Linked DNA regions of Homo sapiens: regions 1, 2 and 4 are each linked to region 3. Evidence: fine-mapped expression QTL. A gene starts in region 3. Each other region holds a variant in brackets. All regions are shown on one strand. Distances are between the middles of the regions.

Region 1 (8,367 bases), 550 kb before region 3:
CAAAAACTGGAAGCATTCCCTTTGAAAACTGGCATAAGACAAGGATGCCCTCTCTCACCACTCCCATTCAACATAGTAATGGAAGTTCTGGCCAAAGCAATCAGACAAGAGAAAGAAATAAAGTGTATTCAATTAGGAAAAGAGGAGGTCAAATTGTCTTTGTTTGTGGATCACATGATTGTATATTTAGAAAACCCCATCATCTCAGCCCAAAATCTCCTTAAGCTGATAAGCAACTTCAGCAAAGTCTCAGGATACAAAATCAATGTGCAAAAATCACAAGCATTCCAATACACCAATAACAGACAGAGAGCCAAATCATGAGTGAACTCCCATTCATAATTACTATAAAGAGAATAAAATACCTAGGAATCCAATTTACAAGGGATATGAAGGACCTCCTCAAGGAGAACTACAAACCACTGCTCAATGAAATAAAAGAGGTCACAAACAAATAGAAGAACATTCCATGCTCATGGATAGGAAGAATCAATATCATGAAAATGGCCATAGTGCCCAAGGTAATTCAATGCTATCCCCATCAAGCTCCCACTGACTCTTCACAGAATTGGAAAAAACTACTTTAAATTTCATATGAAACCAAGACAATCCTGAGCAAAAAGAACAAAGCTGGAGGCATCATGCTACCTGACTTCAAACTATACCACAAGGCCACAGTAACCAAAACAGCATGACACTGGTACTAAAACAGAGATATAGACCAATGGAACAGAACAGAAGCCTCAGAAATAACACCACACATCTACAACCATCTGATCTGACAAACCTGACAAAAACAAGCAATGGGGAAAGGATTCCCTATTTAATAAATGTTGCTGGGAAAACTGGCTAGCCATATGCACAAAGCTGAAACTGGATCCCTTCCTTACACCTTATACAAAAATTAACTCAAGATGGATTAAAGACTTAAACGTAAGACCTAAAACCATAAAAACCCTAGAAGAAAACCTAGGCAATACCGTTCAGGACATAGGCATGGGCAAAGACTTCATGACTAAAACACCAAAAGCAATGGCAACAAAAGCCAAAATTGACAAACGGGATCTAATTAAACTAAGAAGCTTCTGCACAGCAAAAGAAACTATCATCAAAGTGAACAGGCAACCTACAGAATGGGAGAAAATCTTTGCAATCTATCCATCTGACAAAGGGCTAATATCCAGAATCTACACAGAACATAAACAAATTTATAAGAAAAAAACAAACAACCCCATCAGAAAGTGGGCAAAGGACATGAACAGACACTTCTCAAAGGAAGACATTTATGCAGCCAACAGACATATGAAAAAATGCTGATCATCACTGGTCATCAGAGAAATGCAAATCAAAACCACAATGAGATACCATCTCACGCCAGTTAGAATGGTGATCATTAAAAAGTCAGGAAATAACAGATGCTGGAGAGGATGTGGAGAAATAGGAACACTTTTACACTGTTGGTGGGAGTGTAAATTAGTTCAACCATTGTGGAAGACAGTGTGGTGATTCCTCAAGGATCTAGAACTAGAAATACCATTTGAGCCAGCAATCCCATTACTGGGTATATATCCAAAGGATTATAAATCATGCTACTATAAAGACACATGCACACATATGTTTATTGTGGCACTATTCACAATAGCAAAGACTTGTAACCAACCCAAATGTCCATCAATAATAGACTAGATAAAGACAATGTGTCACATATACACCATGGGATACTACGCAGCCATAAAAAAGGATGAGTTCATGTCCTTTATAGGGACATGGATGAAGCTGGAAACCATCATTCTCAGCAAAATATCACAAGGACAGAAAATCAAACACTACAGGTTCTCACTCATAAGTGGGAGTTGAACAATGAGGACACATGGACACAGGGAGGGGAACATCACAGACTGGGGCCTGTTGGTGGGTGGGGGGCTGGGGGAGGGATAGCGTTAGGAGAAATACCTAATGTAAATGATGAGTTGATGGCTGTAGCAAACCACCATGGCACATGTATACCTATGTAACAAACCTGCACGTTGTGCACAAGTATCCTAGAACTTAAAGTATAATAATAAAAAAAATTATATTAAAATTACATATCTGATTCAATAGATATTAAATCAGTAAAGATAAAAATAACTTTAGAATCTTAGGATAACATGGCATATAATATATTCCCTACATGAAAAATAAATGGAACTTTCTTTTTGATAGCTTTATTATTTAATGTATTTACATGAAGATATATGACCTTTATGTTAAAAATATCGAAGGGTATCTTCCTCCCCCTCTTCCATTTCTTTTTCTAACTTAAACTTTGGGTTGGGCAACTGTGTATATGTAAATACAACTTGATCTTCCAATAAATAACTAAACTTTAAAATTAACAAACAGATAAAGTGAACCTGTTGGGGTAACCAGACATGAAAACAGAATTCACCTAAAATTTCATATATTATGCTCAAAAAAACCAATATCTTCAATTTAAATTAATCCAAAAATGAGATAATGGCAAGAAGTATGTATGTTCACATAGGATTAAAGCTGTTCAGAAAATGAGGAAATAATGAAAGGCAAATTATCACTCAGCTTCCTGCCTCTCAGCCATCCCTCTCTCCTCAGAGAAAGCCTGGAACTGAAAGACTGTGTGTCTGACCTCTAATAACCTGATTCCAGAATCATCCACAAGCATAAAACAGTAAAATAATAAATTCTGGTGTTAGGAATCAAGAAAATACCCTTATTGGCTGTTTTGTGTGTCATAATCTAAGAGGTCTACAACATATCACTAAATACTCAGGGGATGCACTGTGCCCCAGGTCCACGACCCAGTCAGGGACATTACATTGTTTTTATTGTTGCTAATGGCTGATGCTTAGGTCTTCACAGGGCCATAAAATGAACATCCAGTGGAAGCAGGTGATAAGTAGGATCACAGGACAAAAACAGACCCAAAAGGTACAAGTGCAAAAGAAAACACAGCTTGTACCTGACCCCAAAGCAAATGTGAGAATCCTTCTCAATTGCTATACTAAGACTACAGCAGGCTTGTCAAACCTTTCTGGCTACCCTTGTACCTCCAAGAGGCTTTTCAGTAAAGCAGTATTTTAAAAATTTCCCTTTTGCTTTTTATATATTTTTCTAAATTAGAATTTCATAGTAGAAAACACTACATTATTTCTCTTATCTTACAAGATCATAAAGAGCGAGGAAAAAAGATTGGCAGAGAAGACCGCTTGTCTCTCTCCCATTGGAGACGGGAGCCAAATTAATTATTTCCGCCCCCCCTTATCTTCTGAAGCAAAATAAATGAATTTTGTCTGACAGTCAAGTGTTTCCAATGCAATTTTTATCCTTCCTTTCTGGAGCATATTTTAGTCTTCCTACATAAAACAGCAGGACTTTGATTCTGCCACAGAAGGCACTTTAAAGTCTGTCTTATCTCACCTCACAAGTGTTTTGTCAAGGAAGATGAAAACTATTTTTATTTTATGGATGAGAAAAATAAAGATTCCGGAAAAACAGTAAGTGATCTTTTCAAAATGCAAATTAGTGATGGAGTTAAGAATAAAAGTTCACTTTCACACCGTGCAGAATCATGCCCTTCTAGACCACTCCTCTCAAACTTTTAACAGGCACTCACCTAGGAACCTTGTTAACATGTAGATTCCATTTGAGTTCATCTGGGATTGTGCCGAGATTGTAAATTTTTAACAAGCTCCTAAGTGATGCTGGAATTGCTGGTCCATGAACCATACTTTGAGTAGCAAGG[C/T]CAGCCTGTTAGCAATTTTTCATGCAATGCTAGCCTCAAGTCATTGGAAGAGAAAGCAACTAGAGTTACAACTAGCACACTGAGATTTGTCCATAAAGCAGCACTCTGTATTATCTCTTAACTGAAAAACCAAAACAAGAGAATGAAAGAAAATTTGGCTTTGCTCAAAGGAGTATGTCCAAAATCCCTGCTTAAAAGTGTCAGTGCCTCATAATGTTGAGTTGGTGCGAATTTGGGTTAATGTCAGTGACCCTTCACTTTTGTTAGACTAGCTTAGGATGTCTCAAGGGGTCAGACTCCTAAACTTTCTTCAAACTTAGGTCAGCTACCTAACTAGTTAGACTCAAGAAAGGAGACATATATATATATATACTGAGCTAGTTTAACAACAACAACTATATATATATATATATATATATATATATTTTTTTTTTAAACATGATCCTTCTTGGTGACATTAGCAAATGAGACAAAACAACATTTTTAGCCAACAGTTATAAGTTCACTCCTTTCCAAGACCCTGCCAAATGAATGTGCTGCTCCCTTCTCCTCCTCTTCCATACCCCAGTCTATTGTCTGCTCTGACAGCACAGGCATGCCCCAGTAGGCCCAGAATTTGGCTGTCGAGAACACTGTATGCAGATTATCTCTTTAAATGCTATATTTTCAACTCTGCCTCCCCCACTATCTTATTTTTGGTCTTTCCTTGTGCTTTCTAGAATGTGGCTGTTTATTTTCTACTTAGAACCTAAATGCTGGATTCAGAAGACAGGAGGGGAATTCATATGCCATATTTCTTATCAGAATTTGAAAGGAAATTTGTTTCAGATTAGGAATGTCTAAATGATGTCCCAGGGAAGATAATTTTAGTTCCCCAACATGCAACACTTGGAAAAATTTAGGTAGAAAACAGCGTTTCCTGTTCATATGCAATGTTCTAAGTGCCTGAGAAAGAAAAGACCGTGGAAGGCACTTGTCACCAAGAGAAGAAAAAACTATATAGTCATTTGGGTATTTTGCATACCCTAAAGGTATGCAAAACCTTAAAAGGCTTTACACATGTTATTTAATATAGCACCTGATGCCAAAAGATCAGAAGAATTGTATAGGCTTTCTCCAATTAGTAAATTTGACAACTCTACAACATAGCAAAAGATTTGAAATCATAATGATATATTTAAATTATTTAATTAAGAAAAAAATCTGGATAACTCATTTTAGTAGTGAGGACACTACTGACCAACAACATTGGCATAGTATAATTTGAGAGAGAAATCTCCTATTTTTGTTCCTGTTGGGTAGAGATAACGATCATACATTGAGTTTTTACTATGTGACATGCACTGTGTTAATTCTTAGACCAACGTTATTTCATTATCTTTTAACACTTCTATGAGAAGTGTTAAATTAAAATTCTTTCACCAAATTCACAAAGAGACAAACCTAGGTTGTGACTCCAAAGCTCGTTTTCTTAAATACTATGCTTTAAATTTACATAGCTATACTATGCTATGAATATATATATTTGATGCGTTCTTTTGAATGAAAGTCAGTGAAGACTATATATTTCAAATTAGGCAATATATAGTCACTGAGATAGCAGTTGACTGAACTGGACAGACCAAGGCTCAGATCCCTGCTTGAACTACTGCATCTTCAAAGGGAGCAATCCCCACCCGGAGCCTCTGCTGCTGAGGTTCCCAGGTTTTGTACCTCAAATTCTGTCTCCACAGGGCCGCAGGGCACGAGACCTGAGAGCAGAAAATTGATAAGCCAGCCAGCAATCTAGGACACAAACCACAAAATCAGATTACCTTCTTGGGGACTTGAACTGGACACTTGGGGATCATGAACCAGTTGAATCAAAAGCAGAAGGTAATAATCATAAATACATGTGTACAAGACTGCAGCCATGTATTAAACAGAGGTATGAGTGCTTAGAAGATGAGAACGTCAAGTTGGGAGAACACTCTAGTTGGGAAAGGTGAGGCGATTTTAAAAGATGGCAGGTTTGTAACAAACCTGCACATCTGCGCATGTATCCCAGAACTTAAAATTAAATTAAATTAAAATTTTTAAAAAAGATCACAGGTAAAAGAAATTCCATGAGAAACTGAACATATTAAGAGAAAGAGAGAGAGAACACCCAAGTATAAAGCTAATGTTTTTACTTGTGCTCTCATGAATCTAAGACAAGAGTAGCTTCATTTTGATTTCCCTCATTTTCCTCTATTTGTTTTACCTTCTCTGCCAGAGTCATGTACGTATCTTCTTTCATGTGTTTGATGTTTCTGTTAAGACAGCTCAAGGCTCTTCTACTGTATTATTGCTTTTATTGATAAGAACAATCCTAGTCTATTGGGTGATCTTTAATGGTTGTTTTGCTGTTGTTATTATTGAGTCTTGAGGCAATCGTTTTCTGAAATAATCTTAAGTTGACTCCATTGCTCAACTATCTGATTAAGTAGCTTTATATTCTTAAAACAAATATTTCATTTGTTTTTAAATTTTATTCTTCCAAATATAGGAGCACCCAGGATTAGGCAAGATATTTAAAGTAGACATAAAATTACTATGTTTCCTCATATGCTAAGAAAACAGAAAACGTTGGTGTACATACAAAAAAGATATTTGATCGCCTTTTTTTCTTCTTAAAATACGTTTATGAGGTATCAGTTGAATGAGAACAAAATGGTAGCAGTGGGTGGGAAGCTGGAAAATGACCTAAATTCTAGGATACGAATCCAATGCATTGTAGATAAATATGTTAGCTGTGGCACCATAACCCGCTGGATCCATCAACCATGTGGATCCATGATGGGGACAAGTGAATACAAAAGGTAAAAATGAAAATTTTAGAAAAAGGAAAGGGATGAGACTAGGGAACACTTCAGGTCAAGAACAGGGAGGCAAGAGAAAGGAAGAAGTTAGCTTATCTCAATTTCACTAAGCAGAATATGAAGGCTGAACAAATAAATGCCCTTATCTTTTTTTTTTCTTTTTTTTTGAGACGGACTCTCGCTCTGTAGCCCAGGCTGGAGTGCAGTGGTGTGATCTCAGCTCACTGCAACCTCTGCCTCCCAGGTTCAAGTGATTCTCCTGCCTCAGCTTCCCCAGTAGCTGGGATTACAGGTGTGTGCCACCACACCCGGCTAATTTTTTGTATTTTTAGTAGAGACGGGGTTTCACTGTGTTAGCAAGGATGGTCTCGATCTCCTGACCTCGTGATCTGCCCATCTTGGCCTCCCAAAGTGCTGGGATTACAGGCGTGAGCCACCACACCCAGCCACCTTTATCTTTTCAAGATGGCGCTCTCATTCACTTATCGCTATGACTATTATCTACTGCAATCTATGTACTTGCATAACATGACCTAAATAGGTAGATATACCATATTCATGGATGACTTAATGCTTTAAAGATAGTACTTCTTGCCAAATTAATCTAAACATTTGAGAACATTTTGACCAAAATCCAAAAATTATATTCTAAATAAAACCTGAAAATTAAATTCACAAGATTACCTGAATGATAGTGCCAAGGAGAGGTGCGCTCTATAGAATACCAAAGGATGCTATAAAGGTATGTTCTAACTACCATACTGACAAAGTGATAAAAAGAAAGATTGGGCTGGGTGGTGGCTTACACCTGTAATCCCAGGACTTTTTGAGGCCGAGGCAGGCAGATCACTTGAGGTCAGGAGTTTGAGACCAGCCTGGCCAACAGGGTGAAACCCCATCTGTACCAAAAATACAAAAATTAGCCAGGTGTAGTGCATGCCTCTAGCTACGTGGGAGGCTGAGGTGGGAGAATCACTTGAACCCAGGAGGCAGAGGTTACAGTGAACCGAGGTCATGCCACTGCACTCCAGCCTGGGTAACAAAATAAGACCCTGTATCAAAAACAAACAAACAAAAAAAACAAAAAACAAAGCAAAACAAAAAACACAAACAGGAAAAGAAAAAAATTGTTTTGTGGTCAGAACATTTAAGCAAATTTCAAGTACACAATGTAGTACTGCTAACTCTAGTCACTATGCTGCATATTCGATCCCCTGAGCTTATTCATTTTATAGCTGAAAGCTGGTACAGCTGTTGTTGTTGCTTTATTTAAGAGAAAGTTTTCAGTGTATCTCAACATTTGAAGAATTGCTTGGTCCAAGGGCAAGTACACTTCAAATGTTGAGTTACACTGAAAACTTTCTCTTAAAAAAAAATAGCTGTATCAGCTATCTCAAAATGTAATAGCACTGGCATATAAAGTGATACATATTAGAATGTTTACTGTAACACTCTGTAATAATAAAAAATTGGAAATCACCTACATTTCCATCTTTTGGAGAATAAATAATACTACTATACTAGTAGTAGTATAATATTCACACCACAGAAAATGATGCAGTTATCAAAAATAACAAGGTAGAGCTGCATGTACTAACAAGGAAGGCTTATGTGGAAAAACAGGCTACAGATGGATATCTGTCACCTAATTCTATTTACATTTTTTTTAAAAGACCAATGGTATATGTGTGTACATCTATGTATGTGTATGTATATATATATATGCGCATTGGTACATAGAAAAAATACACTCCAAATTGTTAA
Region 2 (8,367 bases), 100 kb after region 3:
GGCTGCTGCAGAATTTTAAGGTTATAGATAAAGCTGTGATATTTTATGCAAAGACTGGCTCTAGGTATTTGAGGAGCACAATACAGAGATTTTAAAAAGTGATTTTGTAAAATCTACACTACGGTCTCTGTTTCTCCAAAGTAAGTGTTTGTGATTTGTTCCTCATACTGCAGTGAGTAAAAAAGAAACAAGAAAACAACAACATAAATATTAAAGTACGTTTCAATGTTGGGTGAATTTTGTTTTTAGATGCCAATAAAACTTATTTGTTTGATAACAGTGTTCTAGGAATTGTATTTTTTTAACCTATAAATTCTTAAAACCTTGAATTATTATTAGCATGTGCTTATTTTTTGCAAAAGCTTTCTATCATAACAACAATGAACTATGTGGTGGAAAAAGCATGTACTTTGATATAAAAATCATGCAGCCTCCTCAGTATGTGTATAATATCTGTGTATGTTTATTGTGGAAGTCGTGTAGTTTTTTTCTGTTTCTCTGTATGTCCGTCTTCATGCACATACAGAGAAAATAGAAAGTTGAAAAAGTTTAGATAATAAAATATTCTTTTAAATCTGGTAGAATATTGGAGAAATCTGGCTAATTAACATGGGTTATAGTTAAAGCTCTTGGTCTTGATGAAGGTAAAATAAGAGATATTATAAAGAGATACACTGGTAGTTTGGCAGTTCTATTTTTAATATAGGTAAGCATGAAGCCAGAGTTAGCATGGAGCCAAATTTCACATAAATGCTTGCATTGCTTTGTTTCACACTATATTTGCTATTCTGCGTAGATAGTACTGACACTAAAGTACTCACTGGTCACGTGCCTGAAGTTAATTTCTTAATTGCACAAAATGTGTAGTGGTGCTGGTGGACTTAAAGACATTAATGTGTATACCAGGAACATAATACCCATCATGTGTTTTGTAGGGCTCTGGGTAACACTGTAGCCTGCAAGGTAAACTGAGTAGGGAAAAAAGTAGGGGTTGGCTTCCTGTTTGTTTTTGCTTTTGCTTTTAATTTTTATTTGCTATTTGTTCTCTTTTAGGTTTTACTTATATACACAGATATAAAACCATTGGTGTTTTTTAGTTTCTAATGGAAGGCTTTTATTTGGTTCTATGAGTAGTCATTTTGTTTCCAATGCCTTACCAGCAATTTATCATTTGCTCTGTTTATCTAAAATTTCTAAGCAAAGATAGCTCCAAAAAATGATAGAACACACCAGACATTTAAAATTGGATTGGTCTTGCCTACCTCTGATGACCTAGAGAGCTATAAGAACTTTAAGGTTCCTCGTCAAAAATGAAAGACTTCTTATAAGTTCTGAACAGGGATAGTACAGTATTTATTTTGTTATTTAGAAAAGTAAAGAGTAAAAATATTTCAATGGTATTTACTTCCAAGGTAATTCAGTTCAATCAGTAATTTGAATTGGTTTCAACTCTTTTTTCCTTAGGGTAATGAGGAAAAACTATTACATGGGTACAAAGTTTTAATGTTCAGGAAATATTGGCCTTGCCCTTAAGGAAATTATATTGGCTGAGATTTCTCTCAAACTAGTTTGTTTAGCATTATTAAAATTAAGTGACAGTCACTTGGATTAAATAGCGATAAAAAGCATGAGACTTTCTAGTGATTTTTGATGCCAAGCTTCTTATCACTGTTGGGCCTTCACGTGTGTACTTGAAAAAAAAAAATGTACAAGCATTGCACTGGTTTGAAGATTCTAGTAGTGAAAGTTACCTAACCAGTTATCGGTACTGTATCTAGAAACCAATCTTGGAAATGTGTGATGACACTCTTTTAAAATAGTTAAAAGAAATTATCATGTGCTCGTTCTTTGTCCTTGTTTTTTGTTGTATAGAATTTAAGTGAAAAGAGATTATCCTCATTCAGAATTTTCAAAAGTCATAATTGCATTTGCCATTTTTTAAATGATGGAGAGAAAAGTTAATTATCTTACTTTGATAAATTTGGCATAGGACCTATCACATTTTTTATGCTTTTGGTCACAGTTCTGTCACTAGAATACTAGCAATTAGAAATGTGCAAGGAGTAACCTAACCACTTTAATACATTGGTTTGAAGTGTTGCAAGCAGTGATAACTAGACACCAAATCATGTAGTGTTTTAATTTGTGACATGTTAGAATGATATGCCTTTCTGCAGTATTAGCGAACACCTAATTTTTATCTGTATTTAAACATTTCATTAAACATTAGCTTGTGTTCTTAGCATAAATGCATGCACTGATAGAAACTTAGTTTACAGCAGAGTAATCTGCATCATATGTTCCTTTATTTTAATTTTATTTCAATAAAGGGTAGACAAATAATTTGAAAGTATTGGAAGATGAAAATACTAGAAGTATGAAATTACTTAAAACTCTGGAAGTAACTCCATATAATATTTAATAGATAAAAATGCATTCATTATTTAAGCTATTGCATTCTTACCAGACCAGTTCCTTTTGTCCTGAGAGTTTAGTTTCTTCATTAAATTTATTTGCCATTTTTCACTCATATAAAAGATTATAGTTTAAGGAGCCACACATTTAGGGTTGTTTGGGGGTTAGGGGACGTTTTGTAAATTTAAAAAGGAGAAGTCATCTTTTTAATTTGAAAAAGTGCTTTTTAAATAAACACTGTATTTCGTGGGATATAAGGTGCCATTGATTGTAAGAAACACCATTCAGAAATAGAAAATACTTCTAATATGACATGCTAGTGTTTATAGATACATTCCTAATTCAGAGATAAACGTGAAGTTTCCTAGTATCAAATAAATACAATATTTATTATTGAAATGGACTTTCAGTTTAGTGAGAATATATGAACATTACTGTTAATCAGTTAATTTGAATAAATTTTCTACCAGTCTAAACATTGTTTTTTTTTTTTTTTTTTATTTGAGATGGAGTCTCGCTCTGTTGCCTAGGCTGGAGTGCAGTGGCGTGATCTCCGCTCACTGCAAGCTCTGCCTCCCAGGTTCAGGCCATTCTCCTGCCTCAGCCTCCCAAGTAGCTGGGACTACAGGCACCTGCCACCACGCCCCGCCTAATTTTTTTTGTATTTTTAGTAGAGATGGGGTTTCACCATGTTGGTCAGGATGGTCTTGATCTCCAGACCTCGTGATCTGCCCGCCTCAGCCTCCCAAAGTACTGGGATTACAGGTGTGAGCCACAGCACCCGTCCCAGTCTAAACTTTCGTACGCACACACACACACACACATATCACCTCAAGTGATTTAGAGAATATTTTGTTTTTCTTCACTATTATGTCTAATATATATATGATATCTAATAAGCTTTCTGTTCTGTGTATATATATTAGATATCTAACAAATATATATCTAACAGATTATATTATATATATATATGATGGGCACAACCTTTAATGAACAAGAAGATTCTCATATTAAAACTTTGTTATACCTTATGTGCCTTCATCATCATTACTTTATTGGGTGCTATATTAATAAAATACTTGGCTTTTAACTTACAAAGAAAACTAACATATTTCTCTTTAAAAATATTTTACTTACATAATATATAGAAAGGCAAGTATCTTTATATTCATTAGGCAAAATAAAGGTCTAAATTATTTTAAGTAGTCATACTATGGTGTGGCAGAGAATTATAAATCTTAATATTGTTCATGCTGTGGTTTCATATATGATATCTTTTAAACTAACAAATTGTAGACACTGAAAATTTATTACTTCTGAAGAGAAATATTGATTATTATAATTTTTAATGGAAGATTTAAAAACAAG[A/G]TATCTTGATATCCAGCAAAACTTTCTAAAACTAGAACTTAAAATTAAGGGCCCAGATTGTTTGTTTTTTTTTTTTTTTGGTGGAAAGGCATACTTTAAATATGGGCACATAAATATTGAAAGCAATTTGAGATGTCCCCTCTCTCTGGTTCCCAGGCAGGAAATGTATAACAGAAACACCTGTGGAGCTCTCTGAAAATATTTTGGTGGGGGTATGGGGAGTAGAGGGTGGTCACCACAGAGTTACTAATACAGAATCTCCTGAGGGTGATATATATATAAAATATATGCATACATGCACCTTCCTGTGTATATATGGTTTTTTAAATCCCCACATACCACCATTTCAGATATATTAAAATATGTACATCTTTATTATACCATACTCTTGAGATTCTTAAGATTTTTAAAAATCCAAATATTTTAGTTACATGAGATTATGTTTAGTGTTTCAACAAAGCATGCAGTTAACTGTGGCAGTTGGTGTTGGAGGATGATTCAAAAGTAGAGAAGTCAGTTATCACAGCTTAAATTTAAGCGTTAATCTAAAGATGAGTTATAGGAAGAAAGGGATGGCAGGAAGCATATGAGATGGTTTTGTAGGGAAGTATTTTTTTTTTTTATGCAAGTGAAACTTGTTCATGGATTATTACCTCAAGGAAAATTTACTTGATACATGTAATTAAGTGTTTTGATTATAGAAAGAATCTCTTTGGACCAATATTGTAGGTGTTCAGGGTCTAGAAGCAATGTTATTAGTAAGACTCCTTAGATGTGCATGTCAAAACTAATGCAAATCAGTGAATTATTTGTGCATGAGCTTTGCTTAGGCATTTTTCATCCCCTCCACTTAAGTTCCTCCTTTTTCATCAGGCTCTTTTGCTCCCATATGTATACTTAGAATGACTCGGGCTTCTTGTTCTAAAGTTTATTCAAGATACAGAACAAATATTCTAAGTAATTTGTAAAATATATATTGTATATCAAGGGATAGAATTGTGCTAATGGGCTAATTTCATATTGTATGGGAGACATTAGATGCCTCAGTTAATTGAGGGTGTTTTTGCGTGGAGCTCAATAGATAGTTCAAGTATATTGTATTTGAATCGCAATGGTGGAAATATAGCACCTGGTTGTCCTGTGTTCTTTGTTCCCTACCCTCTCCCCCGACTTCCATCCCCACCCCTGTGGGCAGCTATCATTGTTTTGTTTTATTTTTCTGCCTTTCTCAGAATTAGCCTCCAAATCCTTCTCATAGAGCACTCCAGGCTCCTTTTTGACCCCATCATTCCAGGCAGGGACCATCAATTGGATTTGTTGTTTGCATTGAAAGTCATTTGCTGCCCCTTCACTAAGTGATTATTTCTGACATCACTTCTAGCATTTAATTACCTCAAGTCTATGAAATAAGCTTTCTTTTCTGTAAATGACCAGTTGAGGAAGAAAACTAAGAGGAATGGAAAGACTTAACATTATTGGAACACTTTTAAAAATAGCACAAATTTTATTGCCCTTGGGTTTTTAAAACTGCCTTTAACAATAGCTAGATGTGTGGCTTTGGACAAGTTACTGAGCCTCTAAACATCGTTTGTTATTAGCTAATCTGAAGGGGTAAATTTTCATTATTAAAGATAATATTAGCTAATACTAAATGGACACATGCTCTGTGACAGGAACTGGAATAATTGTATTACCTGCACAATATAATCCTTACGACAGTCCTATAAGGTACTTATTACTTCACTATTTTTCTGAAGAGAAACCCAAGACACAGATTTAAGTTACTTTGCAGACTCACTGTAGTGAAGATTTAAACACTGTGTACCAGATTCAAAAATTAGTGTGTACCATCAGATAAAGTGCCTGACATGATAGAGGCTCACCAGATATTAGGCAATGTATATGCAGAAAAACATAACCCAACCAGCCATATGTTTATAGCCACAGTTAACCACTAAATTGTTTCCATTGTTACAAACATATATCGGGCTATCTCCTTTTCCTATGGCTAAATAATTAAGTTTGATTTTCTTAGATCTCCCTTTCTTCTTTTTCTTTTTCTTTTTTGTTTTCTTTCTTGAGATGGGATCTCGCTCTGTCATCCAGGCTGGAGTGCAGTGGTGCGATCATAGCTCACTGCAGCCTTGAACTCTTCCTGGGCTCAAGTGATCCCTTCTGCCTCTGCCTCCGCCTCCACCTCCCAACATGCTGGGATTATAGGTGTGAGCCCCTATAGGCACCTGGCCCGTATTTGCATGATTGGTTTTTTTTTTCCTTAAGGTTATACCATGGCATAATATTTTTAAATTTCTTAATAACTGGCTATTTTGGAGGCAGACATTTATGTTAAGATTTCTTTTTGAATACGCTTTTTCCTGCAAATTAAATAAAATTTAAAATTCCTTATATCTTTTAAAATGCTTTGTAAAGCAGAGCCAGTGATTGCTTACAAATTTATATTTTAGGATTTGGTTTTGGCAGCTTCTTTCCAAAATTTAACATTTATACACTGCATGTATAACTAAAACTTAGTACCATTTTCTTGTGCATAAAACTCCTATTTTAGGAATATTCCATGGCTTGAATTAAACAATGTGTAAAGTTATTTTTACACGTAGTAAGCATTTAGTGCTAGTGTTTACTCACCACTTCCATTCATATGAAGAGTTTAGAAACTAATCTTTGTCCTTAGCGGCAGTGGATAATTTACAGTACTTTTACCTTATTAGAATATATAACCTGATTTTGTTGTTTTTTTTTTTAAGTCTTCTATTCAAGTCACTAAACTTTATATTCATATAAGGTTTAATCCACAGCATGTCATGATGCTGGCCTTTGATAACTTTTTTCAAGAGTCCTTGGACAGATGACTGTGACCATTGTGGCCATATTCTTACCTAATCCACACATTGGAGAACGTGTTTATCAAGTTTATGAGTTATATTTCCACTAATCTTCGTAAAAGTAATTATCTTGCTTATTATTACATGAAATAAATGTTGCACGTGAACAAGCATTTTTTAATAATGAGTCTGTTTATTACTGAACTAAGTTTATACGTTAGCAAGGGTTTCAGTAAAATAAGATTTGTGTTAAATAATCTTCAGAAGTGGTATTCTGTGGTGATAAAAATTGCTTTAGGGTTGCATTTATATCGCTGCGGTCATACCAAGGGTCAGGATATAGGTTTTTAGTTGGCAAAACCATCAAGGACTCCATTTAGAAGGGTATTTTTAATAAAATTTATTGAGTATTTTAATTACAGCCCTCTGCTTTCATGTATTTTTGCTAGCAAAATAGTCTTTGACCATAGGTTTAATGCACTCTCACTACAAGGAGAGAAGGGTTTTGAGGGTGGAGAGACTTGAACCTGTAGTGTGGCAGGCATTCTACAAAATATATTTTCAGAAATACCCTATGTGGTAGGCTTTGTTATCTTTTCTTTACAAGTGAAGAGGCGAATTCAAAAGATGCCTATGGTTGGTTACACAGCTTTTGATTTGCATAGGTATTCGAACCCAGGTTTTGCTGACTTCAATGCTTTACCTTAAAAGATGCTTTTTTAGAATGGTAGATGTTAATAGATGGTCTGTGTAATTAGTTTCCTGGGCCTCCTGCAACAACATAGAAAAAAATGGGTAACGTAACATTTATTCTCTCACAATTCCAGAGGCCAGAAGTCCAAAATCAAGGTGTCAGCAGGGCGATGCTCTCTGAAGGCTCTAGAGGAGAATCCTTCCTTACCTCTTCCAAACTTGTGGCAGTTCTCAGCAGTCCTTGGTGTTCTTGGCTTGTAGATGCATCACTCCAATATCTGCCTCCATCACCCCCCAGCTGTCTTTCCTCATATGTTTTTGCATCATCTTACCTCTGCGTCTGTGTTCAAGTTTTCTTCTGCTTATGAGGACATCGGTTATATTTGTTTAGGAGCCTACCCTATTCCAGTGTGATCTCATCTTAGTTACATCTACCATGACCTTATTTCCAAATAAGGTTACATTTTCAGACATGGTAGTTAAGACTTTAACGTATATTTTTGGGGTTGAGAGGACACAATTCAGTTGGTAACAGCTATGACAAAATTGGGTAAATTGATGAACATCTTAAAAAAAACACAGTGGAAGAGGCAGGCACTGTAGAGTGACAAAATACATCTTTATAGAAATTCCATGTTAAAATTATTTTGTGTTATAATAATCAAATTTAAATACCTAATACATATATTACCATTAAACAGGATAGTCAGCACTACCTAGTTTTTTAGCTGAATTTGTAATGTCCATATGTTTATGTTTCTTTAGTAATACTTGAACTAAAGGAATTTGCAAAGAAAACCCAATAATATTAGTATTACATCAAAAAGTTACTGTGTATTTTTCTTCCATCAAGAAATAATGCTGACTTTTAAAGGTGGAGGAGTTTTTAGACTTCAGTAAACATAGGTACCCTGAAAATGTGCACTGTTGTATCTTTTCACTTTTGTATGTCAGTGCTTTGAAAGAATGGACAATGTTATCATTTTGTTTTGTCTGCTTATTAAAATTTTCTCCCTAGTGTGATGTGACTATCATTTTGCCATTTCAG
Region 3 (8,367 bases):
TTCCAATATGGTAGCCACTAGCCACATACTTAAACATGAGTCAATTAAAGTAAAATAAAATTGGAAATTATCTTCCTCAGCTGCCCTAGCCGTATTTCAAGTGCACAGTAGCCACACAGGGCTAGTGCTACTGAATTGGGCCGCACAGATTCAGAACATTTCCATGACCCCAGAAAGTTCTATGGTGACTACTGCTCTAGACTATTTTTGACTCTGACCTCTTGGCCATGGCTGAATTCATTTCTATAAGTTACTCCCAGAAACTATTTAGTCCTCAGGGACAATCTGATGATAACATTTACAGGAGAACACCAGAAACTTTAGATTATGAAATATCTCTTCCAATGACTGAAGTACTCCTGACCACTATTTCCTATCAGTCTTTTGAGAACCAAATTAGTGGTCAGTTTCTTGGTGATGGTCACCTAATCCAAGCTGGGTCAATGAAATTCCTTATTTCTTTCCTTGGGAATTTGGATTTGGGAAGGAAGAGGTCGTCATTCAGGTCCTCAAGTTGTCTAGAACTATAAAACCAAAAGTAATAGATTCCACTAGATAAAACAGAGAATTGGGTAAAGCAATAGAAAAATTAAGCAGATAAGCAGAGATTACATTGCCTCTTAGGTTTTCTATTTTGGTTCAAGTCCCTCCCTTGGACTCAGCTACATTTCTGACTTTTGGTTACATGAGAAAAACCTGTACTGTAATAATGAATTATTATTTTATGCTTAAACTAGCTCAAATTGGCTGGTTATACTGGCAATCAGAATCCTAGCGTACATACATACACACACACACACAGACACACACACACGGGTACTGTTTTCACACTCTGTATGTAGTTGTGTATAAATTTTGTATATAGTCATTGCACTGGAACCCCAGGCTCCCCTCTAACCCTTCTCTTGCTTTATCGCCTTCTTATATTAAGATTGTGTTTAGGCTGGGCGAGGTGGCTCATGCCTGTAATCCCAGCACTTTGGGAGGCCGAGGAGGGTGAATCACTGGAGGTCAGGAGTTTGAGATCAGCCTGGCCAACATGGTGAAACCCCGTCTCTACTAAAAATACAAAAATTAGCCGAACGTGGCGTCGGTTGCCTGTAGTCCTAGCTACTTGGGAGGTTAAGGCAGGAGAATCGCTTGAACCCGGAAGGCGGAGGTTGCGGTGAGCCGAGATCGCGTCATTGCACTCCAGCCTGGGCGACAAGAGCAAAACTCAGTCTCAAAAAATAAATAAATAAAAAATAAAAGCCGGGCGCGGCTATAATCCCAGCACTTTGGGAGGCCAAGGCAAGCGGATCACAAGGTCAGGAGATCAAGACCATCCTGGCCAACATGGTGAAACCCCATCTCTACTAAAAATACAAAAATTAGCTGGGTGTGGTGGCACGTGCCTGTAATCCCCGCTACTCAGGAGGCTGAGGCACGAGAATCGCTTGAACCCAGAAGGTGGAGGTTGCAGTGAGCCGAGATCGTGCCACTGCACTCCAGCCTGGCTACAGAGCGAGACTCCGTCCAGCCCCGCCCCAACACCCCGCAAAAAAAAAGATTGTGTTTAGGCTGCTCTCTGTATCTTCCCCCTCTGCTTACCCTGATCAAACTATGCCCTCTGTTACCATTCTGAATGCGGAAGCTTTATTAAATCAAATTGTGAAGCATGTTAACCACTGATTTTATCCTTTAGCTTGTATTGCATTTTAATTTCTCAGGCCTAAGTAATTCCATCAACACTCATTTCATGTATGACCTAATAAATAATCCCTCACAGGCCAAAGCAGCGCCTTTTTTTTCCGTTCTTTTCTTTTTTGTTTCTCTTTTTGAGACAGAGCTTCACTCTTGTTGCCCCGGCTGGAGTGCAGTCACGCGATCTCGGCACGCTGCAACCTCCGCCTCCCGGGTTCAAGCGAATCTCCTGCCTCGGCCTCCCGAGTAGCTGGGACTACAAGGGCGTGCCACCACGCCTGGCTACTTTTTTTGTATTTTTAGTACAGACGGGATTTCACCATGTTGGCCAGGCTGGTCTCGAACTCCTAACCTCAGGTGATCCACCCGCCTCGGTCTCCCAAAGTGCTCGGATTACAGGCGAGAGCCACCACACCCGGCCTCAAAGCAGTGACTTCTGATTGTGAGAACCTGGCATGCACAGAACTGAGTGCAGTACTTTCTCAAGCCACAGTAAATGCTCCTTTAGATGGAGTGATTAGGGGACCTCTTTCAGGAAGATTGAAGGAGGAGGAGTCAGCTATGGAAAGGACAAGAGCAACAGCACCCTGTGTGAAGAGACACAATTGTCCTACCTATGAAAACACTGCTTCTTGTCAAGTAACAGAAAGGCCAGTGTGGCAGGAGGAGAGTCAGGGAGCAAGGGAAGGTGGTGTGAGCTGCGGCAGGCTGGGCTGGGCCTTCAGGCCATGGTGAGAAGTTATGATGGTATCAAATGGGCAATGAGAAAGTATTTAAGGGATTTAAGTAAGGGAGTGACCTGATCTGATTTATCTAAGAAAAACATCCCTCGGCTACTGTCTGGAAATGAACTGTAGGAAGACAAGCAAGGGACCAGTTAGGAGGCTACTGCAAGTGTCAGTAAAAGATCATGGCTAGGCCTGAAGATGGGAGACGGTGGAGAAATCTGTGACAGAATTTGAGATTTTGAAAGTAAATATAAAAGCACTTGGTGAGTTATCCCTGTTACCTTCTCAGTAGCCAGGCCCTATACTAAAGCTGCCAATGAAGTAGAATGAAGGCTCTGAAACCTCAAGAAGGGCCTTACTTTCCCAGTTTCACGGGGCTCTGCGCACAGCTCTTAGGAACTACCTTGATTCCAAAACTCTCCAAAAGTACGATCCTGCCCTTATGTTCCTCTCTCCCTTTGAGTGAATTTGGGAATGATTGTTGAAAAATGACTTTCAACAAGAGGACAGCAGTGTTCGGGGTTCCACGATACATCCCTATCTTTTAACATCGATAAGTATTTTTAAATTGGTACCTTATTTTGCGCTGCACGAGAGAGAAGGCTTTTTACTAGCAGCATCTCCTAATCCATCTAAGAAATACTGTATTTACCTTTACTCCAAGTATCCTAGGGCAAAATTCCTTTAGAACAATTCATCTTCCGAAACAGACGGGTTCCCTTTTCACCTATTCAAGTGTTGTGCATTCTAGGGTCCCCTTCCCGCCTTGCAGACAAATGCGCTCATTGTGCCACTCCAGTCCCTGGATCCTATGCAGCGGGCATTTCCTGCAAGGAGCTGCTGCATGCCTGTTTCCCTCGCCGCCTGCCCCAACCCGAATCCAAGGCTTTGGTTTCTAATGTTCCCTCCCTGTGCAGTTAAAACAATTGAGTTCAGTTACTAAATAGATGACCAGGAACTTTTTCTTGGCGAAGGCTGCGGATGTTTAGGGCACTGTCCAGTAAAGTTGTGAAAAGCAACTAAACCCTGCCGCTTGTGCAAAAGGACCAATCCACCGGGAAACAAGGGAAACGCGCACATTTCCTCAACTTGCCGCTTCTTGGGCACGTTTAGGCTCTTATTAGAGCCGCGCTTTGGAGTTGCCTCCTCCTGCTGTACAAACCCGCCGCGGCGTTCCCCCGGATGCCGCAGCGCTCACTCCCGCGTCCGCGGGGCGCGGGGAGGGGGCGAGGCGCGGGCGGCCCCGGAGCCAAGGCGAGGGCAGCGGAGCCCAGCCGGGCCTACGGGCGGCGACGCTCTGGCCCCAGCGCGCTCGATGGTTTCCGCGCGGCCGCCGGGGCTCGCACGGTCCAGTCGCCAGGGGGCGCGCTAGCCGGCGCCGCGGATCCCCGAACTGCGCGGCCCGACTCGAGTCCGCCATATTGGATGCCGCAGCCGCTGCTGCCAGCGCTTCCTCCTCTGTCTTCGCCGAGCGGGGCTGGTTCCTGCGGCCCGAGCGGCGGGGAGGTGAAACAGGAGCCCGTCGGAGGAAGGGGCAGAAGGGAGTGGAGAGTGTAGGGGAAGGGGCTAGAGGGAGGGGGACCGAAACGGAGCGGGGCAGAGAAGAGAAGGCGCCGCGGCCCAGCCCCTCCCCCGCCCGCCGCCGACCCGCCCCGGCAGCGCCTCTGTTCCCTAGAACGGCGCTCCCCCCGCCCTAGCGGCCATGCCGGTGCCGCTCTGCCGCTGAGGGAGCCCTTCCCCGCCAGCGCGTGCCCTTCCACTCCGCCCCGAGGTCGCAGCGGCCCGCTCTCCCGCCAGCGCCCCCTCCTCGCGGCCACGCAGCAGCCCGCGTCTCGCTCTCCCCACCCAGTGCAGTGGCCGCCGCCTCTTCCGCCGCCGGGCTCGGGGCCTCCGCAGCGACAACATGGAGGCCGTGAAGACCTTCAATAGCGAGGTTGGTATGGCAGCCGGGTTCCCCTGCTCCTGCCCGCACCGCCCCCACCCCTGGTCGAGGCCGGGGCCCGGAGGGTGGGCGCGGGCCTGCGGGTTTTTTAAGGGTGGGGTGAGCGGTGGCCTAGCAGTGCCCGTGGGGGAGGGGTGTTTCTCCTCTGGGTGCCCCTCCCCCGGGTCCGGGAGGAGGGTTGGGGGAGGGCCGCCCTGGGGCGGAGGGAGGTTCTGGCGTCTCCGGCGTCCTATGGAATGGCTGCGAGCTCGGAGGGAAAGACCCGGTTGGGCCCTCACCCGGAGACTCCCGACAGGTCCCTCGAGGTCAGTTCCGCCGAGGCCTGGCCCGCCCACCTCCTTCCTGGGCCTTTGAGGATTTAAGTGGACGCTGGACATGACTCTCCAGACCTTCCCGGGTCCTCACTGAGGCTAACACCGATTGGGGGCGGTGGGGGAAATGAACCTACGGGGTGTTGATCTGTGGTCACGTTACACGTAGTGTTTATAATTGAGGCATTGTTGACTAGGTAATTTGCCAGCTAGGGACTTGAGCTAATTGGATGGTTGGTAGGCAGGCAAAGGTTATTCTGCAATATCTTTTATTTTTACTCGCTCCTCTTCTAATCCATCACGACATAAAGACAAATGGTAGGGAGAGATCTGTGCATCGAGAGATGGAAGATTATGGGGGAAACATTTCTCGCTGGTTCATTCACGTGTCAAACAAGATTTTAAAAAGCAGATTCCATTTTCACTGTGTAGTTGAATTTACTAGTCTGGAAGAAGACAGGTTTTGATGTATTCAATTTCTTTTTAAACTCCGACTTCAATAGGCCTTAATGTAAACATCAAACATAGCAAGTACACATCTGCACAGTCAGCATTAGTATCCCTACCCGTACGCCTTGGAAAGTGTAATTATGGCCGGGAACAGTGGCTCAGGCCTGTAATCCCAGCACTTTGGGAGGCCGAGGCGGGCCAATCACGAGGTCAGGAGTTCAAGACCAGCCTGGCCAACGTGGTGAAACCCTGTCTCTACTAAAAATACAAAAAATTAGCTGGGCGTAGTGGCAGGCACCTGTAATCCCAGCTACTTAGGAGGCTGAGGCAGGAGAATCGCTTGAACCTGGGAAGCGGAGGTTGCAGTGAGCCGAGATCTGCGCCACTGCAATCCAGCCCAGTGACAGAGTGAGACTCTGTCTACAAAAAAAAAAAAAAGAAAAAGAAAAAGTGTAATTATGCTGGTAACTAAATTAGCATAAATTTTATGAACTCTTAAAGTGCCAATACTTTATTCGATACTATGATTGTTAAAGAGTATCTTTAATATTTACCTCTTAAAATACGAGGCTTTTTGCTGTGACGGCCCAAATAGGACAGTACTTTTAAATGCCGTTGCATAGTTTTATCTTGTTTTAATTTCTTTAAAAAGAAAAACAGTATTTGGGAATCTTAGCTAAGAGGCTAAACGGTAGATAATATTTGGGCTATTTTCAATAGCAGTGATACATAACTTTTTTTGGAAAGCATTTTCTTTTTTAATACTACATTTTTTATTTTTAACATTGATAAATTAGAGCAATAGACTTGGGAATCTTCTTTTTTTTTTTTTTTTGAGACAGAGTTTCGCTCTTGTTACCCAGGCTGGAGTGTCACCATCTCAGCTCACTGTAGCCTCCACCTCCCGGTTTCAAGCGATTCTTCTGCCTCAGTGTCCCGAGTAGCTGGGATTACAGGCGCACATCACCACGCCCCGCTAATTTTTGTATTTTTAGTAGAGATGGGGTTTCACCATGTTGGCCAGGCTGTTCTCAAACTCCTGACCTCAAGTGATCCACCCGCCTTGGCCTCCCAAAGTGCTGAGATTATGGGCGTGTGCCACTGCGCCTGGTGTTTCATTTTTTTTCATAGCTATCTTTCTTTTTTTGAGGAGTGTCATTCTGTCACCCAGGCTGGAGTGCAGTGGTGTGATCTTGGCTCACTGCATCCTTTGCCTCCCGGGCCCAAGGGGTCCTCCTCTCACCTCAGCCCCCCAAGTAGGTGAGATTACAGGCCAGTGTCACCATGCCCGTCATTTTTATTTTTTATAGAGAGGAGGTCTTGTTATGTTGCCCAGGCTGTTCTTGAACTCCTGGGCCCAAGCGGTCCTTTCACCTTGGCATCCCAAGTGCTGGGATGACAGATGTGAGCCACCACGCCTGGGGGATTTCGTTTTGTTTTGTTTTTTGCCCTCATTGGATTTAATTCCCGCCGCCACCCTCTTCCCCACACACACTTTGTTGGGTGTCTGTCTTTGGGGGGGTTCCTAATAATGTGGTCCTCCCCCTCAAAGGGCCATCCAAGACTTTTTTTTTTTTTTTTTTTTTGGAGACGGAGTTTTGCTCTTGTTGCCCAGGCTGGAGTGCAATGGCGAGATCTTGGCTCAATGCAACCTCCACCTCCTGGGTTCAAGCAATTCTCCTGCTTCAGCCTCCGGAGTAGCTGGGATTACAGGCACCCACCGCCATGCCCAGCTAGTTTTTTGTATTTTTAGTAGAGATGGGGTTTCATCACGTTGGCCAGGCTGGTCTCGAACTCCTGACCTCAGGTGATCCACCCGGCTCGGCCTCCCAAAGTGCTGGGATTACAGGCGTGAGCCACTGCGCCTGGCCCATCCATGACGTTTTAAACAGTAGCTCCCAAATATTAGATGTAAACAAGTGGTTAGTGCACTATGGTTGGTCACAGTAGGGAAGAAATGTTAATTCCAGTTTTTCGTTTTAATATTAATTAAGGATAAGGGGGCCTAACATTTACATGTGTAGATAGGTGTTTCACCTGTTTTCTCATTTTACAGGAACTTGAGGTTTGTCTTAGTCCCATTTTAGTGTATGTAGCACTCTCCCATTTCCCCATATGGATTTCAAAGAACTTAAGTCTTGTAACTTCCTTATTTATTTATATGCTCTAACTTCACCGTGTTTCAAAGTGGAGTTAGCTTAAAAATAGCAGTACAGAGTCAGGGAGTTGAGGAAGGGAAATATATTTGAAGAAGATTCAGAAAAATACTTTTTTTTTTAAACACAAAACAATACATAATACTGTTTTTTATTTTGAATGCAGTTTCTGTGAATGTTGTAATATTTGCTGATGTGTAGTAAACATTGTTATTGCAAATAAGTATATGCTGAGAAGTAGTTCAGTAATGATTGTTTTCCATTAAATTATGTGTTACAAATTACAAAAATTAAAAAGGAATTCTAGTTGCAGGATTAGGAGAAAAGGATGTTTTCGACGCTCATAGTTTGGCTTTTAAAGGTGTTTATCTTTGGGTTTAATCCATCACAACTTCTCTGCTAAATTTAAAGGTATCTTTGAAACATTGAATTGTCAATTCCATTTGCTTTGTAAGGAATCAAAATTTAGCTCTAAGAATAATCAGGAACGTTTGTCAACAAGATATTTTGATACTTCACCTTAAAATATTTAAAATAGGCTGGGCTCGATGGGTCATGCCTGTAATCCCATCCCTTTGGGAGGCCGAGGTGGGCAGATGACTTGAGCTCAGGAGTTCCATGCTAGCCTGGCCAGCATGGCGAAACCCCCATCTCTACAAAACAACAACAACAACACAAATTAGCTGGTCACGGTGGCATGTGCCTGTAGTCCCAACATGGGTGAAGGGGGTGTAAAGGAGGGGGCAGGTGCTGAGGTGGGAGGATCTCATGACCCAGGAAGGTGGAGGCTGCAGTGAGCTGCACCACTACACTCTGGCCCGGGCAACAGTGCGACCCTGAATCAGAAAAATTGAGACAGGTACTCGCTGTTGACAGGTCACCACGCCGGGCTAATTGTTTTTGTTTTGTAGAGATGGGGTTTTGCCATGTTGCCCTGGCTGGTCATGAACTCCTGAGCTCCGGTGATCTGCCCACCTCCCCTCCCAAAGTGCTGGGATTACAGGCCTAAGCCGTGGTGCCTGCCCCAAATTAAATGTTTAAAATACAAAATACTTAACCTTTTATGGCTTGCTAAGGCTCAGGTTTTTCCAGACTGA
Region 4 (8,367 bases), 47 kb after region 3:
GAAAACCTATTGTGGAAGAAGGCCTATGAGAATTAATAAACTTTCAGTTAAGATTTATGAAGTAGTTTTATTTTAATTATGTATAGTAACAAAACAAAGAACACTGTCAAGGTGTCTTCCAGAATTGTTCCTTCAATGTGTAGTTATTTAATATTTTGCATATTGATTTTTAAATGTTTAGGGGCCTCTAAAGTGCCTAATAACTTTAGTTGTTTTGGCTTTTTTACTTAAGTAACTTAAACCATTGAGTAAACTTACTTTATTGTAAGTAACTTTAGCCAGACTTAAACTTGTAGGTTTTGATTTGGTGAATATGAGTTCATGATGTTTTCTTTTCTTTTTGTTATTATAAATACTGGATTTAGTGCTGAGGTTTAGTTGAATGTTCCTATTTCTTCAGTCTAAGGGAATGTCCTTAAAAAGCATAATTCACGAGAAGAAAAGTATAAAGAAGGCTGGGCGCAGTGGCTCACGCCTATACTTCCAGCACTTTGGGAGGCCGAGGTGGGTGGATCACTTGAGGTCAAGAGTTAGAGACCAGCCTGGCCAACATGGCGAAACCCCGTCTCTACTAAAAATACAAAAATTAGGCGTGGTGGCTGGCACGCATCTGTAGTCCCAGCTACTTGGGAGGCTGAGGCAGGAGAATCGCTTGAACCCGGGAGGCGAGGGTTGCAGTGAACTGAGATTGTGCCGCTGCACACCAGCCTGGGTGACAGAGTGAGAGTGTGTCTCCAAGGGGAAAAAAAAAAAAAGTATAAAGAGAAGCACAATTCAGGTTCTTTAAACAGAAATCATACGCCAATATGGTATTGTTATTGTGGCATTAAAATTTATTAGGCACACATGTATATACTATACGCTAAATTTATAATTTATTTCAAGTTTATTCATAGTGCTATATTTTATGAAACTTAAATCTTCTAAGTTTTCTTAAAATTGATAGTGGCCAATTACTAATTTTTAATCTACATGTTCACTTCCGCTGATTCATTTTGTCTGATCCATTAGGATATTATACATTTCTATGTTTTATTTTGTATTCTTGCAGTTCATTTTCCAGGAGAAGCAGAAGGAGATAAATGAAGTAGAAAACTACCTTACATACATTTATTAATGTTATTTGTAGTTACTTGATTTTTCAAATTTCCCTTGATTTAACTGATAAAATCATACTGTATGAAATCTGTACTTTTCCTTTCATGAATATAAGAATATACACCCACCAGTACTTATTAGAAGTATTTTGAAGTCAACACAACTGTTTGTTAAAGTATGCTTTCAGAAAGTCTTCAATAGCATTATTTTATATCTGTGGTAAGGTAATGCACTTTGGACATGCTGATCACACATCTACTTTAGAGAAGCCCTTTACTAATTATATAGCACAGCTAGTTGCATATAAAGGTGAGTGACAAGAATGTTTGTCTCAAAATTCTTGGTTAAGATAATTGTTTTGATAGACCTTTGGAGCATGTAAAACCTATGGTTAGCAGGAAATTTCAATCTCCTCAAACTGATTTTAAAACCATACTTCATTTTTTTCCTCTTTTAGTTCTATAAACATGTGGTACAGAGTGTTGAGAAGTTTATTCAGAAAGTAAGTATATAATTTTCCATACATGTGCTGTAATTGTAGATTAATGCCTGTACTCTTCTCCTTTAGATCAAATACCCAAGTTTAAATTGTTTTGATGGACTGTTAAAAAGTGATTCCAGTTATTTTATTTTCCAATTAAGAAATAAAATAAAAGTGCCTTTCAGATAATTTTACTTAGGTTTGTATTCTGCCTATGTTCATGTGCCTAAATGTAAGCAGAGCCAGTTTGAGAATCGGTGTCATGTGGTATTAAGGATTCAGCAAGGTTGCAGTGTGTTTATGTTCCACTTGGGAGAAGGGTGCGGGATTTGAAGTGAGATTTCAGTCATTCAACTGGCTAGGTAACTTTGAATAAGTTAGTTAGCCTTTATGTCATTGAGTTCTTTTTTCTTTTTTAAAATTCTTGTTTTCTCAGTATTTAAAATATAGTATTGATAGGCTGTGCACAATGGCCCACACCTGTAATCCCAGCACTTTGGGAGGCCAAGGTGGGTGGATCACTTGAGGCCAGGAGTTCAAGACTAGCCTGACCAAGATGACAAAACTGTGTGTTTACTAAAAGTACAAAAATTAGCTGACCTGGTAGTGCATGCCTGTAATCCCAGCTACTTGGGAGGCTGAGGCACAAGAATTGCTTGAACCCAGGGGGCGGAGGTTGTAGTGAGCTGAGATCACACCACTGCACTCCAGCCTGGGGAACAGAGTGAGACCCTGTCTCAAAAAATGTGTGTGTGTGTGTGTGTGTGTGTGTGTGTGTGTGTGTGTAGATAAAACATACTTGGGGATTAAGTGGTTTAGGTAACTTGAAGCTAAGATAAAGGGTTGAATAACAAGTATGCTGTCTGTTTCACTTAAAGTTTAAAAATGTTAGTGATTAGAAAATTTTATTTGGTCTAACGCTTTTAAAAGCATTTCTCAGAGATTGTTCTGATTAAAGATCTTTCTTTAAAAGTTTTAATGTCTGGTTTTGTTTTGTTTTGTTTTGGTTTTTTTGTTTTTGTTTTTGAGACGGAGTCTCACTCTGTCGCCCAAGCTGGAGTGCAGTATCAAGATTTCGGCTCACTGCAACCTCTGTCTCCCGAGTTCAAGCTATTCTCTTGCCTCAGCCTCCCCTGTAGCTGGGATTACAGACATGCGCCACCACGCCCAGCTAATTTTTTTGTATTTTTAGTAGAGATGGGGGTTTCACCATGTTGGCCAGGCTGGTCTTGAACTCCTGACCTCAAATGATCCATGTGTCTTGGCCTCTCAAAAGTGCTGGGATTATAGGCGTGAGCCACTGCGCCCAGCCATAAAGTTTTAATGTCTTACACTATGCCTCATAAACTTGATGAATAGGAATTTACCTAGAATTCTTGTTAAAAATGTGGATTCTAATTCACCGAGTGTGGAGAGGAACCTGAGATTCTGCATTTGTAACAGCTCCTAGATGATGTTTCTTTACAAACCACAATTTGAGTAGTAAAGGTTTAAAAGGTAAAAGTGAATTTATGGATAAATGCTTGTTGACTGATTTGATTTGTGGTAGGGTACTTTGAATAAAATGTGTCAGAATCTTAGGAAGACCTGGAATGAGCAAAGTTACTCTATCGTGAGATAATTACAGTCAATCTGAAGAAGCCAATCAGTGTATGGGGAAAAACTTAAATGCTTTGCTATTACCCTGTTTAAATCAGAGATCCAGCAACAGATTTGTGTAATGGTTAAAATAAGGTGTGTGTGTGTGTGTGTGTGTGTATATATATATATATATATACACTTTTTTTTTATACTTTTGAGCTAATTGTAGATTCACATGTCATTAAATCAGTAGGAATAAATCATGTAGAGATCCCATGTGCCCCTCACTCAGTTTCCCCCTGTGGTAACGTTCTGTAGAATTGTAGTAAAATATTACAATCAGGACATTGATACAGTCACCTGTTGACACACTAACCTTATTCAGATTTTAATTGTCTTACATGCACTCATTTGTATATGTATGCATTTAGTTCCATGCCGTTTAATCACATATATAGATTCATATAAACATCACCATAGTCAAGGTACAGAACAGTTCCTTCACCACTAGGATGCCTTGTGTTTCCCTTTTATATACTCTATAGTCATACTCGACTCACCTCCTCCTCCCCATCCCTAATCCCTAATGCCTGGCAGTCATTAACCTGTTCTCTTTCTCTATTTTACATTTCAAAATGTTATATAAATTGAATCATACAAAATGTAGCCTTTTGAGATTGACTTATTTTGCCCAGCGTAATTCTTTTGAGATCTAACCAAGTTGTTGCATGTATCAAATAGTTCCTTCCTTTTTTTTTTTTTTTTTTAAATTTAAGTTCTGGTATACAAGTGCAAAACA[CAT/C]AGGTTTGTTACATAGGTATACCTGTGCCATGGTGGTTTGCTGTACCTATCAACTTGTCATCTAGGTTTTAAGCCCCACATACATTAGCTATTTGTCCTAATGCTCTCCCTCCCCTCGTCCCCCACCCCCGACTGGCCCTGATGTGTTTTGTTCCCCTCCCTGTGTCCATGTGTTGTCATTGTTCAACTCCCACTTACGAGTGAGAACATGGGATCTTTGGTTTTCTGTTCCTATGTTAGTTTGCTGAGGATGATGGCTTCCAGCTTCATCCATGTCACTGCAAAGTACATGATCTCATTCCTTTTTATGTCTGCATAGTATTCCATGGTGTATATGTACCACATTTTCTTTATCCAGTCTATCATTGATGGGCATTTGGGTTGATTCCATGTCTTTGCTATCGTGAATAGTGCTGCAGTAAACATACGTGTGCATGCGTCTTTATGGTAGAATGATTTATATTCCTTTGGGTATATACCCAGTAATGGGATTGCTGGGTCAGATGGTGTTTCTGGTTCTAGATCCTTGAGGAATTGCCACACTGTCTTCCACAATGGTTTAACTAATTTACATTCCCACCAAGAGTATAAAAGTGTTCCTGTTTCTCCACAGCCTCACCAGCATCGGTTGTTTCTTGACTTTTAAGTAATCACCATTCTGACTGGTGTGAGAGTTTATCTCGTTGTTTTGCCCCAAAAACTCCTTAAACTGATAAGCAACCTCAGCGAAGTCTCAGGATACAAAATCAATGTGCAAAAATCACAAGCATTCCTATACACCAACAATATACACCAAGCAGAGAGCCACGTTATGAATGAACTCCCATTCACAGTTGCTACAAAGAGAATAAAATACCTAGGAATATAGCTAACAAGGAGTGTGAAGGACCTCTTCAAGGAGATCTACAAACCACTGCTCAAGGAAATCAGAGAGGACACAAACAAATGGAAAAACATTCTATCCTCATGGATAGGAAGAATCAATATCGTGAACATGGCCATACTGCCCAAAGTAATTTATAGAATAAATGGTATTCCCATAAACTACCACTGACATTTTTCACAGAATTAGAAAAAACTACTTTAAATTTCACATGGAATAGGAAAAGGGCCTGTATAGCGAAGACAGTCTTAAGCAAAAAGAACAAAGCTGGAGGCATTGCACTACCTGCCTTCAAACTATACTACAAGGCTACAGTAACCAGAAGAGACATATGGTTTCCTTACTTTTTATTTCTGAGTAGTATTTCAGGGTATGAATTTACCACAGTTTAATCATTCACTCATTGGGGTTCATCTGGGTTGTTTGTAGTTTTTGGTTATTATGAATAAAGCTGCTAGGAACACTTGTATACCCAGAGTGTTTTTGTGTGAATGTAAGTTTACATTTCTTTGGGATAGTGAGTACATGTTTCCATTTTATAAGAAGCTACCAAACTGTTTTCCAAGATGGCGGTACCATTTTATATTCTCTTCATATACCATAAATTGTGTGAGGGAGAAGTGTGGCTGCAGTTTGGTCATATATTATCCGTGAACCCATGTTTTAGTCATGAAAGATTTATGGAGTAATAAATGACAGTAAATGAAAAATTAACAGTAAATATGATTTCCTTTAGGCCAAGAAAACTACTCTAAAGAATACTCTGGTCTCTGGCCTTGTCCTAATTAATTTTGCCAAAAATCAGTTCATATGCTGATTGTGTCTTAGCTTTATAAGACAGAAGCACCTGGGCACTCTGGCTCATGCCTACAGTCTAGCAGTTTGGGAGGGGCCAAGGCTGGGCTCAGGCATTTGAGACCAGCCTGGGCAAACGTGGCAAAACCCTGTCCCAGCCTAAAAACTACAAAAATTAACTGGGCAAAGTGGCAAGTGCCCGTGTTCCCAGCTGCTTATGTGGGTGAGGTGGAGGGATTGCTTGAGGCTTGAGTTCAGGAGGAAGTTGAGGCTGTAGTGAACCATCATTGTGCCACTGCACTCTAGCTTGGGCAACAAAGCAAGAGCTTGTCTCAAAACAAAACAAAACAAACAAACAGAAAAAATGGGGGCGGCAGCAGCAGCAGAGGCGGGAGTTAGAAACAGATAAGGAAACTTCAGAAGACAGGTTTTAGAACTTGTTATGATCCTGTGTCAGGGTTCTCTAGAGGGACAGAACTAATAGGATATGTGTATATATACACACATATATAGGGTATACATATATACAGGGGAGTTTATTAAATATTAACATAAGTATTAACTTACACGATCACAAGGTCCCACAGCAGGCTGTCTGCAAGCTTGAGGTGCAAGGACGGCCAGTCTGAGTCTCAAAACTGAAGAACTTGGAGTCCAGTGTTCGAGGGCAGGAAGCGTCCAGCACAAGAGGAAGATGTAGGCTCTGAGGCTAGGCCAATCTCTCGTTTTCATATTTTTCTACCTGCTCTATACTTGCTGGCAGCTGATTAGATGGTGCCCACCCAGATTAAAGGTGGGTCTACCTTCCCCTGCTCACTGACTCAAATGTTAATCTCCTTTGGCAGCACCCTCACAGACACATCCAAGATCAATACTTTATGTCCTTCAATCCAGTCAAGTTGACACTCAGTATTAACCATCATAGATCCCTATATTTGCATTATAAATAACTAACTTACCTTAGTTATCCTGAATCCTAAAGGCAATAAATTTTATTTTGAGCCAGAGACCTCATGATTTGGTGACTTTTCTACCATCCATAGCTCTGTTCTCATTTGCTGGTTTGAAATGCAAAAATGAAATCCTCAGCTCTGTTCCAAAAATATGTAGAGTTTACCCAACTCTTTTTGTCTGTATGAAATCCCTTGCCTTTTTTTGCATGAGTACTACAAGCAAATGTGTCTACTAGATTCAGAATAAGATCGAATATTATCATTCAGAACTATTTATTTTGATAAAATCTAGATGCTTTGTTACAGTGAAATACATTCTATGGTACTGTGGCTACTCTTAGATACGGTGAGGTCAGGAATAAATTTCATCTTTCTGGCTCTGAAAGTGGTCTGTAGATGAGTTACTATTGCCTTAATCTGTAAGCTTTTGGCTATGATTACCTTCTTCAAATTTCCTGCTACATATTTAGTAAGAGCAGGAAATGTGGCTTATTTGTGGTGATTTTCAAGTTACATTTACTTTGTAAATAATAAATGAAAAGATGGTGCTAAACTGTCTAGAGATTATCATCATGAAAGTTTTTTGTTTTCTAGAAAGTTGATCTGGTAGCTGTATGTACATGGTTGTTAATGGTGGTTGATATTTTGCAGTGGATATGTATATATTTTTCAAAGAAGCGAAACATTTATTCTTCTCTTTGATATTTTTCCAGAGGAAGGATTGAGTCCACATTGAAAGATGGCTGTTAGCTAGGTGCAGTGGCTCACGCCTATAATCCCAGCACTTTGGGAGGCCGAGGTGGGCAGATCACTTGAGAGGTCAGGAGTTTGAGACCAGCCTGGCCAAAATGGTGAAATCCCGTCTCTACTAATACAAAAATTAGGCAGGCGCGGTAGCACATGCCTGTAGTCCCAGCTACTCAGGAGGCTGAGGCAGGAGAATTGCTTGAACCCACAAAGCAGAGGTTGCAGTGAGCCGAGATCATGCCACTGCACTCCAGCCTGGGTGACAGAGCGAGACTCCGTCTCAAAAAAATAAAAAGAAAGATGGCTGTTATATTTACTTATCTCTGGTGTCTTGAGATATATATATATATATATATATATATATATATATATATTTATTTATTTATTTTTCATGTAGGGTGCAGTATTCTGTAACTGGACTTTTATCATGAGTATACCTTTATGCTTGGAGGTAGGATACAAAGAGATTTTTGTACATGGGCACAAATAGTTTGAAAGGAGTATATTTCCAGATTCTCACTTTTCATATGTATTTTTATTAAAGTTCCTCTTCCCTAGGATATTTTAGATCAACACAAGTTCCACACTTTTTAAATTTACATTTCAAATATATCTTAAGCTTATCAGTCATTCTTAATCATTATGATTAGAGAAACTTTTGCCTCTTGCTTTATTTAAGAAACCAGGGATGTTTATATAATTACAGTCACTCTTCCGTTTCTGTGGGTTCCAACCCATGGGTTCAGCCTATTGGGATCAAAATTTGGGGAAAAAATATTCCACGAAATTCCAGAAAGCAAAACTTGAATTTCCTATACACTGAGTAGAATGTGAATGAAGTGATGTGTAGGCATTGTATTAGGTATTCACAGTAATCTAGAGCTGATTTAAAGTAGATGGGATGATGTCCGTAGGTTATATGCAAATACTGCCCATTTTATATAAGGGACGTGAGCATCCTCGGATTTTGGTATCTTCAGGGGTCTTGGAACGAATCCCCCAAGGCTACTGAAGGACAACTGTATTTC

Evidence for each region. PIP is the estimated chance that this variant, and not a neighbour inherited with it, causes the effect.
Region 1: its variant is the best candidate, but not a certain one, in a credible set for the expression of SCAF8 in visceral fat (GTEx, PIP 0.77).
Region 2: its variant is the best candidate, but not a certain one, in a credible set for the expression of SCAF8 in whole blood (TOPMed, PIP 0.51).
Region 4: its variant is the best candidate, but not a certain one, in a credible set for the expression of SCAF8 in whole blood (TOPMed, PIP 0.52).

Annotation. Positions count from the first base shown.
Region 1 is chr6:154,176,228-154,184,594 of GRCh38, forward strand. All of the region lies in intron 10 of IPCEF1 (interaction protein for cytohesin exchange factors 1), which reads right to left. It also overlaps a transcript of OPRM1 not described here. Among named protein-coding and RNA genes, the nearest start is that of OPRM1, 140 kb to the left of the region's middle. The variant C/T (reference allele first, on the strand shown) is at 3,764.
Region 2 is chr6:154,833,784-154,842,150 of GRCh38, forward strand. SCAF8 (SR-related CTD associated factor 8) reads left to right here. Exons shown (of 20, transcript NM_014892.5): 20 at 1-438. Among named protein-coding and RNA genes, the nearest start is that of MIR1273C, 15 kb to the right of the region's middle. The variant A/G (reference allele first, on the strand shown) is at 3,784.
Region 3 is chr6:154,729,587-154,737,953 of GRCh38, forward strand. SCAF8 (SR-related CTD associated factor 8) reads left to right here and starts at 3,830. Exons shown (of 20, transcript NM_014892.5): 1 at 3,830-4,344. The coding sequence starts at 4,315. RefSeq lists silencers at 3,463-3,702, 3,733-3,852, 4,003-4,602 and an enhancer at 3,863-4,366.
Region 4 is chr6:154,776,446-154,784,812 of GRCh38, forward strand. It overlaps SCAF8 (SR-related CTD associated factor 8), which reads left to right. Exons shown (of 20, transcript NM_014892.5): 3 at 1,556-1,600. Among named protein-coding and RNA genes, the nearest start is that of SCAF8, 47 kb to the left of the region's middle. RefSeq lists a silencer at 2,357-2,557. The variant CAT/C (reference allele first, on the strand shown) is at 3,960.